Homo sapiens: one gene and its partner. The protein of the gene in region 1 interacts with the protein of each later gene in a pairwise test. Each region holds a gene or a part of one and is shown on either strand. Other genes may lie near its edges.

What was found. Proteins that work in one complex are often made in the same cells at the same time.
Region 2: the proteins of ADGRG7 (region 1) and SORT1 interact in binary tests that used the Homo sapiens proteins (3 or more experiments, as listed by UniProt).

The regions. Positions count from the first base shown.
Region 1 is NC_000003.12:100,640,430-100,644,335, forward strand, and holds part of ADGRG7 (adhesion G-protein coupled receptor G7 isoform 1 precursor), read left to right. Parts: intron 1-2,836; coding exon 2,837-2,976; intron 2,977-3,096; coding exon 3,097-3,204; intron 3,205-3,906. UniProt on the Homo sapiens protein: Orphan receptor.
Region 2 is NC_000001.11:109,342,419-109,346,146, forward strand, and holds part of SORT1 (sortilin isoform 1 preproprotein), read right to left. Parts: intron 3,464-3,728; coding exon 3,333-3,463; intron 1-3,332.

The DNA.
Region 1 (3,906 bases):
TCTGTCAAAGTGGGCAGAGCTCTGGAGGTGTAGGGTTTCTGCTGGTGAGGGCATCATAGTACAATCAATGAGTTTAGGACTTCACCTCACCATTTTTTTTTCCTTTTTTTGAGACGGAGTCTTGCTCTGTCACCCAGGCTGGAGTACAGTGGCAAGATCTCAGCTCACCACAACCTCTGCCTCCCAAGTTCAAGCAATTCTCCTGTCTCAGCCTCCCTAGTAGTTGGGATTACAGGCATGCACAACCCTGCCCAGCTAATTTTTGTATTTTTGGTAGAGACAGGGTTTCACCATGTTGATCAGGCTAATCTTGAACTCCTGACCTCAGGTGATCCACCTGCTTTGGCCTCCTAGACTGTTGGGGTTATAGGCGTGAGCCACCGCGACGGGCTGACCTCACCATTGTAGACATTGCTTGCATAGTCTGATCTGTAACCTTAGACCTTTGATCTCATATTGAAGGTCATAATTACCCTGGTTTATCTGACTTTGGGAATGCAAAATGCCTCCCTAGCACTGACCACCTGTACATTTACATTTCGCTTTTCTTTTTTTATTTCTGTTCCAGCTAGCCTGGCACCCACTCAAATATCTTGAACAAATAGAGATTTATCGTAAATAGGCATATGGGGTCTCATGGAGGCCCAAGAACTAGATCATAATATAGTGGGCCTTGTCAACCCAAAATAATCAAAAAGGTCAGAATCTAGTTTAAAGAGAGTTCGTTCAAGTGCAAAGTTTAAGGACAGCTGCCTGGGAAGCACAAATTCCAAAAAATGGAAGTCAATGTTTTGAAGTATATAAGTTTGGGATCATTTATATAAACAAAGTTTAGGGAAGCTTAAGAGAGTTTTAACGTCTTTCTATATAAGGCTTTCTATATAAGGCTTATAGTAATGCATGGTTATAGTAATCTGATTAGCTGAGGTGGTCTTTTTCTTTTGGGAAATGTGTATTTAACATTCCACACTGAAGGTGTAACAATTACACTGAAGACGTAACAATCATGAGCTAAATGGTCTGAGTTAGGTACAGGACAAAAAAGGAGGCAATTAATCTGTAACATAGATCAGTCATTAGAAAGGGGAAAGGTCTGGCCTCTCCTAGTCATTTACAGAACAAGAACAATGAGGAAGAGAGTTAATCTATAATCTAATAAGCAGAAGTTGCAAACACGCTACACGTGATTCAGTCTCCAGGGCTTAACTTCCTTTTGACATAATAAATTTAGAGGGTCTTGAAATTTTATTTTCTTTTATTGCCATATGGACCCTGGAGCAGGAAGATGACTGAGGATCCAAGGCAGCTTTGGAAGCCTTAGTAGAGGAGTTTACAGGTCTTTTCTTATTTTCAACAGGAAGAATTAGCCTCTTATTTTTAATTTGTGGTTTTTCTCACAATGATGTAATGACCTCTCTGGCTTCCTCTAAATTATGACTTTCCTGATATAACTACAGCACTAATCAAAAAAAACCCCGTTTCCAAGAATCTGATGACTTATTTTAGTCAATTGTGCCAGGTGGATGACCACTTTCTGGATTGGCTTCTCTGGGGCAGGTGCCCATCTGTAATCTTATCAGTTATGACAAGAGGAGGAAAGAAGTACAAGAAAGAAAAAATGACCTTAGAAGTAGCTATGGTTAGAGCAACCCTGTAAAAGTGGGAACATGAAAAACACCTCCTGTATATCTACCACATCTTTCCTTTTAGCCTGCAAATGCCTGAGGGAGCAGCTCCTGGAACTCCCACTGTTTCACAGAGTGCTGACCTCTACATAGATACTCAACAGATACTGTTTGGTAGAATGATATTCTTAGCAGGTGGGAGTTTTGTTAGGTATTCCTCCCATTGAAAGCAGCTCTGGGGTATGTGTGAATTGCTGAAAATGGTTTTATAAAAGGAAAACATTTCAATCAGAGGATCTAACCTGAATGTTTCCATACGAATGATGATTATGTTCTCTTTATAAAGCAATCCTCAATTATTGTAAACTTTCTTTTTATCTCATTTGGAGGTAGAGAAAAGATATTTTAGTGTCAGAAATAAAGATTTGACATATAGAACAACTACATTTTGATGAAATCCTTTCATTTCTGGAAGAACTAGACTGATTATTTTACATACAGAGGTTTTGTTTGGTCAAGTACAGAAATAGTTCAAATATTTCTATGGGAAACAAGAAAAAGAAAAGGTCTTATGACTTTTCTTTGGAGAATGCCAAATTGACAGGTTGCCCCCACTCCCTCCCACCTTCCATCTAATCTATCTTTGAACTTAGCCAAAGTAGAAAAGAACATTGTAAAAACCTTCAGGGTTTAGTTCATAGCTGAGGCAATGAGCTCAGAGCTCTGCTCTTTGGTGGTTCCATCTGAACTGTCACCTCAGGAACGAACAACTTACAAAACATGCTTTGGATCCTAAGGGGTTTGGGTGAGAGGAAGAAGATGAATAAATGGAAATGGATTCTCACCACTGGAGAAAAAATTAGAAGTGCATGCCTTGCCAATGGTGGGTGGCAACACCATCCTTCTATGTGAAGAGCATCATAATAAAGACTATTTCTTTTGGGAATTCTATAATTCTTGAGTTCTACCTTTTTGCCATCTATGTTCAAGGTAGCCTTCAGTGAGGACTGTCCACCAGAACTGTTTTATTTAAGTACATATAACACAACAAAACTCTAGAAAAGAAAACCAATTATTCTTAGGCAATTGTCAATGTTGTCATGACCACACAATTCTATGCTCATGTCTTTCTGCTGTAGTGTAAGACAGAACACATACCTTTCATTTTATGACAAAATCTTGAGTATTAAATTGTGTTTTATTATATGCAGGCTTATTGAGCAAATGGAGACTTATTCCTTGTCTTTGGGTAATCAATCAGTGGTGGAACCTAACATAGCAATACAGTCAGCAAATTTCTCTTCAGAAAATGCGGTGGGGCCTTCAAATGTTCGCTTCTCTGTGCAGAAAGGTGAGCTGTTAATCTTATGTGCTTGTAACAGCAAAGAGCATTCTGCTACTGATGATGAATAATAATGCTCTACTCATGATAATGTAGACTTTTACAATTCTACTCTTTCCCTTCTCATAGGAGCTAGCAGTTCTCTAGTTTCTAGTTCAACATTTATACATACAAATGTGGATGGCCTTAACCCAGATGCACAGACTGAGCTTCAGGTCTTGCTTAATATGACGAAAAGTAAGTCTCAAACTTTGTGACATTTAAAAAAATGGACTCGAATTCATGGAACTAATAACTTCTAATTTACTCTAGGAGAAATAATGTCTACTTAGTTTCATACTGAGTAATTTGCATTTGAGTAAGTTTGAGCTCTGACATATTATGGTAATCTCAACTCTACTATTCTAAGTCAAAAAGATAATTTCTTTGTTTTTTCTTTTTTCAAAAGCCTTTTGGAAGGTAGCAGAATTGAAATGTTCAGGCCATGTACACAAATATGTTTTCCTACAAAAATCTTGCTAAGGTGGTTCTGTTTTACACTTACAAATTTAAGACATATTCAATCACAAGCTCTGACCATGTTTACTAGTGGCATGACACTCTCAGGCTCAGATGCATCCTGCAGACCTAACCCTGGAGAAGTCTATGTAATTGGCACAGACATCATTTAGTAGTATCAATTTTAGGTTATCTCCTCTCTGTGGTGCCCACCATGTGCTCACTATTGTCCTACATATAACCTTTCAGAAATTCTTACACGTAACTTGAAGTGGTTGTATTTTTCAAAATCTAAAAAAAAAATAAGTAAATCAAACAGACACACTTACTTTTCATTTCTCCCCAAGCAAAAAAACCCGATGTCAGAAAGTATATGTGTTAGATAGAATATATTTATAATAGCACTAAAAAAGAAGAGAGTATTATTCGTGAATCTGGCAC
Region 2 (3,728 bases), on another chromosome or scaffold:
AGATAGTATAGTCTTGGTCTCTGATAGTCCACCTCCTTCAGTAGAGCTAAGGATTTGATGAGAACATTAGGTTGGCTTTATAGCCATTTGCATACACTCAGGTAATTCTTAAAATGATGACTACTGCATAAAAGTTTGGTCCCTTTCATACAGTGCTTGCATAATTTAAAGAATTATATACTTAAGGGTCTAGAAAATAGAGATGAAACCCATGTTTGGGAGATCACAAGGGAAGTCAAGATGTAACACGCCTTCTCTCTAAGGAAGTCTCTCAGAATAGCCAGGATGAAGGGAACAGGCATGGGCTGGAAAGAGGCCAAGGAGAGTCGGAAATTACTATAAGGAAACTGATTAGGGAGTATTTGGCTGACGAAAAGAGTCTGTTAAGAAAGCAATTAAAACTTAACTCTCTGATAAATAGCTTAACATCGCTACTAGATACAGTTAGCCTGAGCATGAGAATTAATGTCGGTGTTTCCTTAGATTAAATACTCTTTAAAGTTCAGTGATAAGTACATTTAACTTATTCAACTTATACCAACATGTCTCATTACTTTGAATCTTATTCTCATTACTGTAGGTAGAAACCAGAGTTCAAAAGTACATCGCAAAATTTTAATTCTGTAGACAGCATTATACCATATATGCAGTATAGCATAGGAAGCTACCTCTGGAATTTGAGTCTGATTTCCAGCAGGATTCCACTACTGGTTGACCCTAGGTAAGTTACTCAATTTCCTCACCTATAAAACTGAGGTAATACTATTAGCTCACAGGGTTATTGGGAGGATATTACAAAATGGCTTTGGAGAGTTATCTGTATTTACTGCCTACTTCTTCATCTCTAGTTCTCACTGAAGTCACTCCAATCGGCCTTTTAACTTCCAATGAAGTGCTTTTGTCAAGGTCACCAACAACCTCCACGTCGCCAACTCCAGTGGATAATTCTCAGAATGCACCTAACTCAATGGTCCTGATTTCCCTCTTCCTCCCGGATCCCTCCCTCTCAGTCTTCTTTGCTGGATTCTTCTCTTTCCAACCTTTCAGTTGTGGGTGCTTCAGGGCTTGCTCAGTCCTCCCACCTCTTTGCTACCTACTTACTCCTCCAGAAGGTATCATCTGGTCACATGGCTTCAAATACCATAGCAATTAGGGAGATTCATATACCCAAATGCTCACTTGACATCTCCATTCAGATATCTAATAGGTGTCTCATATGCAGAACTGAATTCTTTTTTTATTTTTTTTGAGACAGAGTCTCACTCTGTTTCCCAGGCTGGAGTGCAGTGGCATGATCTTGGCTCACTGCAACCTCCGTCTCCACAGTCCAGTTGATTCTTGTGCATCAGCCTCCCGAGTAGCTGGGATTACAGGCCTGCGCCACCACGCTTGGCTAATTTTTTGTATCTTTTAGTAGAGACAGGGTTTCGCCATGTTGGCCAGGCTGCTCTCAAACTCCTGACCTCAAGTGATTTGCTCGTCTTAGCCTCCTAAAGGGCTGGGATTAAGGCGTGAGCCACCATGCTCGGCCCAAAACAGAATTCTTGATTTTTCTCCCACAACCTGCTCCTCCTGCAGTCTTTGCCATCCTAGAAAATGGCACCACCATTCAGGCGCTCAGGATACAGACTCTTAAAGGTACCCTTGATTCCACTCATTCTCTCACAACCCACATCAAATCCATCAGCAAGTCCTATTAGTAATATGTTTAAAAATGTATCCACAGTCTCACCACCTGCCCCCTTACCCACTGCCAAGAGCCTGGCCAAGCTACCACCTCCCCAGCTTGGACTCCTGAGAGAGCTCCCGGCGCTCCCGCTGCTTCTGCGCGTGCCCCTGTCAGGCTGTTCTGCGCACACCTATTCTTCAAAAGAGAAGCCAAATCTCAGCATTCCCCTGCTCACAACCCTCTCACAGCTCCCAACACAAGAAGAGTAAGGCCCACATCCTAATTGTGATCTACAAAGGCCACATAAGGTCTGGCCAGGCCCCCTCTGGCCCCACTTTGGACTATTATTCTCTGTGCTCCCCCCATACTGCCCTTCTCCCCTTTGCTTGGATTGATCGGGCATGCTCCAGTCTGAGGGTCTCTGCACTGGCTGTGCCTCATCCTACTCTCCTCCCAGATGGCCACATGGTCAAGTTCTTGTTTCACTTAGGTCTCAGAGAGCCCATCCTAAACAGTCTGTCTAAAAGAGCACTGACTCCTGACACTTTGTTTTCTTACTGTTTTAGATTTCTTCGCGGCTTTAATTATTACCTGATACACACACACTCACATTTATATTTATTTATGAGACAGGGTCTTGTGCTGTTACCCAGGCTGGAATGCAGTGGCATGATCACAGCTCACTGCAGCCTCAACCTCCCCAGGCTCAGATGATCCTCCCACCTCAGCCTCCCAAGTAGCTGAGACTACAGGCACATGCCACCATGCCTGGCTAATTTTCTTATTTTTTGTAGAGACAGGGTTTTGTCATGTTGCCCAGGCTGGTCTTGAATTCCTGGGCTCAAGGGATCCACCCGCCTCAGCCTCCCAAAGTCCTGAGATTACAAGTGTGAGCCACTACCCCCAGCCTTCATATTTATTTTTTGAGTATTTATTTTCCCCCTTAAACATAAGTTCTGAGAGCAGGAAATTCATCTGTTTTGTTCACTGCCATATTCCTGGGACTTAGAATAGTACCTAGCATATAGTAGGCACTCAATTAATGTTATCTAATTGTATTTTTATTCTTGGATAATGAGCAAGAGATTGCTTTCTACAGATGTCCATTGTCTGAGTAATGCCCAAACACTGGATCAAAATATCCTGGCCGGGCGCGGTGGCTCACGCCTATAATCCCAGCACTTTGGGAGGCTGAGGCGGGGGGATCACCTGAGCTCAGGAGTTCAAGACCAGCCCGGCCAACATGGCAAAACCCCATCTCTACTAAAAATACAAAAATTATCCGGGTGTGGTGGTGCACACCTATAGTCCCACTTACTTGGGAGGTTGAGGCAGGTGAATTGCTTTAATCTGGGAGGCGGAGGGTGCAGTGAGCCGAGATTGCGTCACTGCACTCCAGCCTAGGCAACAGAGAGAGACTTTGTTTCAAAAAAAAAAAAAATCCCAAAAAAGATAACAGAATTCACATGGTGACAGAAGGCCAAAGTGCAGAGTAGCCTATCAGTCAATCAGCCTTTGCAAAAAGAATCACCCCTAACACTCACAGTGGTACTAAATATAACAAAAAGACAAGAAACTCTGTCAATGCCAAGTAATAAAGAGAATCTATACGAGAGATATTTGCAGAAATATCAGACCCCAAAGGGGAGAGGGCAATACCTACCTTATCAGCCATCACAGAGGCAAAAAGGAAACGTCCCCCAAGACCAAATGAGTAGATTTTCACACCAATAGTTTTGAAGCTTTTTCCCAAGTCTGAAGTTCTCCATAATTCCAGAGCCCCAAGGTCAGCTTCTTAAACAAGACAAAATATTAATTAAAATTTCACTTACTGGTGAGCCTAGTTCAAAGCAGTTGTTTTAGAATCAATCTTAATTTTATAGCTAAAGCATTTTAAATACTATGCATGTTAATCAAGTGACAACATAAAATGTGATACAGCGGCCAGGCGCAGTGGCTCATGCCTGTAATCCCAGCACTTTGGGAGGCTGAGGTGGGCGGATCACGAGGTCAGGAGATAGAGACCAAACTGGCTAACACCATGAAACCCCATCTGTAC